2 separate regions of the Homo sapiens genome follow, and region 1 is linked to region 2. Evidence: fine-mapped expression QTL. Tissue or cell type: prefrontal cortex. Region 2 holds a variant in brackets; the other region holds the start of a gene. All regions are shown on one strand. Distances are from middle to middle.

Evidence for each region. PIP is the estimated chance that this variant, and not a neighbour inherited with it, causes the effect. A credible set is the group of variants that fine-mapping cannot tell apart.
Region 1: RASD2 starts here. The variant in region 2 is the best candidate, but not a certain one, in a credible set for the expression of RASD2 in prefrontal cortex (GTEx, PIP 0.87).

What each region holds. Positions count from the first base shown.
Region 1 is chr22:35,539,429-35,542,188 of GRCh38, reverse strand. It overlaps RASD2 (RASD family member 2), which reads right to left and starts at 1,358. Exons shown (of 3, transcript NM_014310.4): 1 at 689-1,358. RefSeq lists enhancers at 1,008-1,570, 1,571-2,133, 2,134-2,696 and a silencer at 1,667-1,886.
Region 2 is chr22:34,712,763-34,715,522 of GRCh38, reverse strand. No RefSeq gene overlaps it. Among named protein-coding and RNA genes, the nearest start is that of LINC02885, 280 kb to the left of the region's middle. The variant G/C (reference allele first, on the strand shown) is at 1,412.

The DNA.
Region 1 (2,760 bases), 830 kb before region 2:
CTGACCTGGCTGCTCCCTCCCAGCCTGGCTTCCCACCTTCCATGAGGTCTTGGACAACATCCCCTGTCATCCTCCTGGTGCTGGGGACAAGGGGAGGGGAGGGCACAGAGAGGCCTCCAGAGCTGCCTTCCGGGCCCTCCAAGACAGCTAAGTTACAGGAAACCCCTCCTGGGAAGGGAATCATCCAGGAAACTCACTCTGCACCAACCCAGAAAAAGCTCAAGAACTCTGGATAACGAAGGAGCTTCTTAATCTTCCTTCCCCACCTCCAGGTAATGCAGGCTGCAGCCAGCTCCAGAAGAGGGACAGGAGTGTTTGTGGTAGTTGACTCGTCTTCCCTGAGCCCCCGTTTCCTCCTATTTAAATGGGCTATTACTCTAGCTCTTTAAATGCAAAGCCTGTGGCACCAAAACTAGCACATAGTAGAAGCTCAATAAATCTTTCTTTCCTGGGATTAAGTCAAGGGTATAGCACTCAGTTTGACACATACAGTAGGTGCTCAACGAATTTAATTCTCTCTAGGTATGCAAAGTTGCCAGACGATCCCGGCACATAGTAGGTGCTCAATCAATTTCACTTTCTCTGGTCATCTAAGGAATCACTGAGCTTTCCTCCTCCAAGCCTCTACCCTTTCTTCCCGGCTGCTCCACTTCCCCCAGATGCCCAGCTCTGTTGGGGCGTCTCCTACCTGGGAATGGCGGGCCGGGCCTCTGGCACGGCTCAGAGAGCTGCCTGGAAGCGCCGGGAGCTGCGGGGAGCTGCCTGCTGCTCCAGCCGCCGAGCCTCCCAGAGTCTGTGGTGGCTCCCGGGTCACTGCGCGGGGATCCTCCCCTGCGCTGCTCGGGACGCCGGGCTGGGCGCGGCCGGGCAAGGAGGCGCAAGGGGCAGGTGCCCCATGGGTGGGCTCCGAGGGCTCGGCGGGGCCCGGGCAGGGGGCGGGCTCCGGCTCGCCGCCGCCGGCCCTGCCCTGCCCCGAGCCGGGGGCCTCCTGCTGAGCCAGGTGCCCGGAGGCTTGGGGACGTCCGATCCGGGGGTCCCCGCCTGGGGCTCTCGGGCTGGGGGCAGAGAGGTAGGGGCGACTCCAGTGATGAAGGAGCAGCTCCTAGAGACTTGGGGAGGGGGGGTCCTTTGGAGGTGACTGTGGGTGCGTGTCCCAGGTGGGCGAACCCTCCTGGTCGCCTATGCCACCTTCTCCGCCTGCCCCAAAGGGGGTCGCTCGGATGGGGGGTATCGGGCTGCCGGGCTCGGCCGCGGCCTCCTTCTCTGCCCGCGGCTCTGCAGCTCTCCCAGCGCCGGAGGGACGGCTTCTTTCTCCCCGCGCGGCGACGCCAGCAGCTGAAGGAGGAGCAGGGCGCTCTGCTCTGCGCGCGTGTGGGAGGGGGCCTTGAACGCCGCCCCAAGGTTTCGCAGCTCCAAGTTAGCATCAACCCGGCTCCTCCTCCTTCACCTCCTCCTGTCCCCAGATGAGGAGAACTTTGTGTGTGGCCCTGGGTTCTCCCTCCTTCCCCCTCTCGCAGGCAGATGCCCCACTGTCACCCGCAGGGCGAAGAGGTCGCTGATCCCTCCGAAAGGTGGCAGAACCCCAGGCTCCTGATGACGGTCCCAGCGGCACCCTCCCGCGCCCCTGCGAGCGTCGCCCACCTGCTCCTTCGGCCCCCCGCGAGCCGCGCCTCCCGCCGCCCAGCGCCAGCGTCTGCCCCCCAGAGCCCGCTCGCCCCGCCCCACCCCGGCGCCCCGCCTCGCCCCGGCGCCCGGCCAATGGGAGGCGGGTCCCGCGGCCCGGCCCCGCCCATCCCTTTCGCGGCCTCCGGGGCGCCGCGGTCTGCGGTTCCGCGTGTCCGGGCGCGTGGGGCCGGGGCCGCTGGGCGCGCGCACCTTGCCCAGAAGGCGGCCCGGGCCTCGGAGGCTGACGTCTGCGCACGCGCTCACACGCACGCCCGGCCTGGCCGCAGGTGACCCGCATGGGGTCCGGCCGCCTGCCCACTCGGCCGGGGTCTCCAGCGGCTTGCGCCCGGCCAGGTCGAGCGCGCCACGGTTCCAGCGCCCTCCTCCTTCGCGGAAGTCCCCGGGTGCCCTCCCAGGTGTCCAACCTGCCTGTCCCAGCCGCCGCCTCCCTCCCGAGCTCACGGTGCCCACGGGACCCTGCGGACTGGCACATGGGCCATGCACGTGTCGCCCAGAGGGGCGGGGAGTCACCTAGGCTTAGTAGCCAGAGGTCTTCGAGGCATGCGAGTCTCAGAGACCACGGCCGACGGGGACACACCAGGTGCCTTGAGCATTGCGTCTCCTGCCTGCATTCTCCCTCCCCACCTTTAAATGAGGGGCTTGACCTAGGCCAGACATCGGGCCTTCTCACTGGGCCATATCTCCACACCACTTATTACTTAATATATTTTTTAAAATATCAGATCCACTTTCCCCACCCCTTAAACACGTTTTTTTAGAGAATCATTATATCACTGCCTTAAATGGGAAATCAGTATCACTTGCCATAAATAGAAAGTAAGAGTTAAAATAAGCACAGTGAAAACAAAGCAAGGTTATTAAATTCCAGCTGGAAACCGTGGCCTGCCAAGGCTTGAGATGTGTGCCCTCAGTGAAAAAGGGAGATTGGCAAGGTTTGGAGAGGTGTTAAATACCCATTAGCACCTAACAGAGACTTTCTCCTTCACATATCAGGAGGCTTAAAAGAGAATGTTCTCGTTGTGTGATACAGCAAAGGGATGGGATGCTGTGTCTGTGTCCCTCAGTTCCAGATCC
Region 2 (2,760 bases):
TCATTAAACTACTCTTTCATGAAATCCGTCTATTAATACATGCACTGGGTCATGACTAAGATGTATGTCTTACTGGGGTCATGGTTAAAAGAGTTTGAAAAGCCACTGTTTTTAAGCACATGCCTTTGAGTCTTCGCTGAAATCCACTTAAGATACAATAATGCAAGTCTCCTAATTTCTCAGAACCTTCTCTGTTAATTTCATACTATCAGGTTCTCTCTCTTCTGCTCCTGTTCCCACCCTTCTCTTCCATTCTTTTGGCACTTACTTAATTTATTTCTTGTGGTTATTCACATTTGTAGGGATAGATCGATAATTATTTAATGAATAGACTTAGATTTATTGAGGACCTACATCATGTTAAGCTCTGATGATTTGAAGGTGTTTTAAAACAAATAAGATTCCCTACCAAAAATAGAGTTTATAATTTAGTAGAAGAGACAAACAATGAAAAAATTACAAAAATAACTATGTAATTACAAACTTTGATAAGGGATATCTGAGAGAAGTTCAGATTGCCAGAAGAGTATAAAAGTGGTGTGTGTGTATATGGACAGAGGTGGGATGTTTCTGAACAAGCTGGGGTGGGATAGCATGGGTCAGGAAAAGAGGTATTCATTTTCTAAGTCTGTTATAATAAATTACCACAAACCTGGTGGCTCACAACATCCAAAATGTATAGTCTCACAGTTCCAAAGGCTAGAAGTGAAAAATCAAGGTGTTGGTAGGGCCATGCTCCCTTCGAGGCTCCAGGGGAGATGCCTCTTCCTAAATCCTTGTAATTGCCAGCCAGCTTTGCTGTTTCTTGCCTTATAGCTGCATCACTTAGATCTCTGCTTCTGCTGTCACTTGGCATTTGTGCCTGTGTGTATCTTGTGCATTCTGTACTCTTTTTTTTTATAAGGGCATCAATCATTCGATTTAGGGCATATTCTAATTTAGTATGATCTTAATTAATTACATCTGCAAAGACCCTATTTCCAAATAAGATCTCATTCTGAGGTTTCAGATGGACATGAGTTTTGGGGGACATGATTCAACCCACTACAAATGGCTCTCCTGAGCTAAGAGCTGGAGAGTGAAAAGGGAGATTAGGCAAAGAAAGTGGTCCAGAGAGGGGGAAGAGTGTGACTGGGAAGGTGTGTGGGAGAGGAAAGCAAGTGAGGTCAAAGCCTCAGGGATGGGGAGGTTGAATGTGGTATAACTGTGGGCCCCCTTATGGGGATCAGATAGTGCAGGGTCTGATCTGCTGTGTTAAGGGGTTGGGTCTTAGGATGAGAAGCAGTGGGAGGGCAATATCTTATTTGTACAGCTGGCCTTGACCATGAAAAATGCTTTGCCTCATGGATGCTGAGGATTATTCTGTATTCTTGACATATATCTCCTGTTCTTTTAAGTCCTACCTGAACAG[G/C]CCTTCTGAGAAAATTCCTCCCTGAAATCCCCATTCTCTGGAGCACTCCATCCTTGGGAGGTGGATAAAATTCATCACATCCCAAATTAAGAGATGAAAATGAATTGTGTTATCACTGTCTTGCTTCTTACTCTTCAGCCACCTGGATTGGGTGTCCCATCATAGTACCCCTGCAGGACTCTGTTCCCTCCATCTCAAAACCTGTTACACTGCAATGAAATGGACTGCTGACTTGTCTCTTTTTCTACATGTAAGTGTGAATGTCCCCAGGACAGATAGTTGCTAAGCCCTGATGCCTAGAACACTGTTTAGCAATAAATATTTGGTGAGAGAATGAAGGAAGGAAGGAATTGGAGGGGCAAAATTTTCTCTGTCAAGGAGGCAAAGACTTTACTCCCCAAAGCAAGAAAATGGCAAAAGAAATCTTGTATGTGTTTCAATGTTGTCTCTGTAGACCATTTTCACCTGTCTTCCAGAAAAACTGTGGCCAAAATGGTCTTTTGCCTCCATCCTGGGGCAATCTCTCAGGTTACACTGAATACACTCCATGAGTGTGGCATGAGCACTAAGGGAGGAAGGGCACTTCTGATAGAGCCACTTATTCTACTTTGTGGTCCAATACATGCCCCATGCAGCTTGGGAGGTGAATAAAGTTCATCACTTCTCCTATTAGGAGTTGAAAATGAATTGTGTTATCACTGTCTGGCTTCTTACTTTTCACCCACACACCTGCTTGGGAATTTTTAGCTTTAATTTTGTAAGATCCACACTTAGGATATATAAGCTGGACTCACTGTCCTGTTTGGATTTTATTGATATGCAGAATTACTGAATTTTCCTCCAGAAATCCTCCGACATCGCCTCCTCAGTACCCACCTTCCTTCCAGGCTAGATGAAAACAATGTTTCATTTCATCCACAGATTGAAAGAAATCAATTAGATGCCAATGTCAGTGTGATTCAGTGGGCACTAGGCAGAGGCTGGGGGATTGTTACTGGCTCTGTGGGTGGATAGGAAAGCAAAAGGCTGAGAAATAAGAATTACCAGGATGGAAGCTGTGAAAGTGTTTTTTAAGATGATGGCACATAGCACACCAGAGCTATTAGCAGAGGGAGAGTCTGGCATCTTGTGAAGACACAAGTAAAAATATCCTTTTGGCATCCAGGAGTCCTAGAGATCTGATTCTACCCTAACAATTCTGGCTTGGCCCCCAGGTCCCCTCTGAGGCTCCTAGCAATGGATGCCGGGAAGGTGACTGAAGCTCTGAGAGCCAACTCTTCGTGAAGCACTTCAGGCTTTTTTCATCTGCAGGCTCAGCTAACCCTCTCAACGGCTCTTTGAGAAAGGCC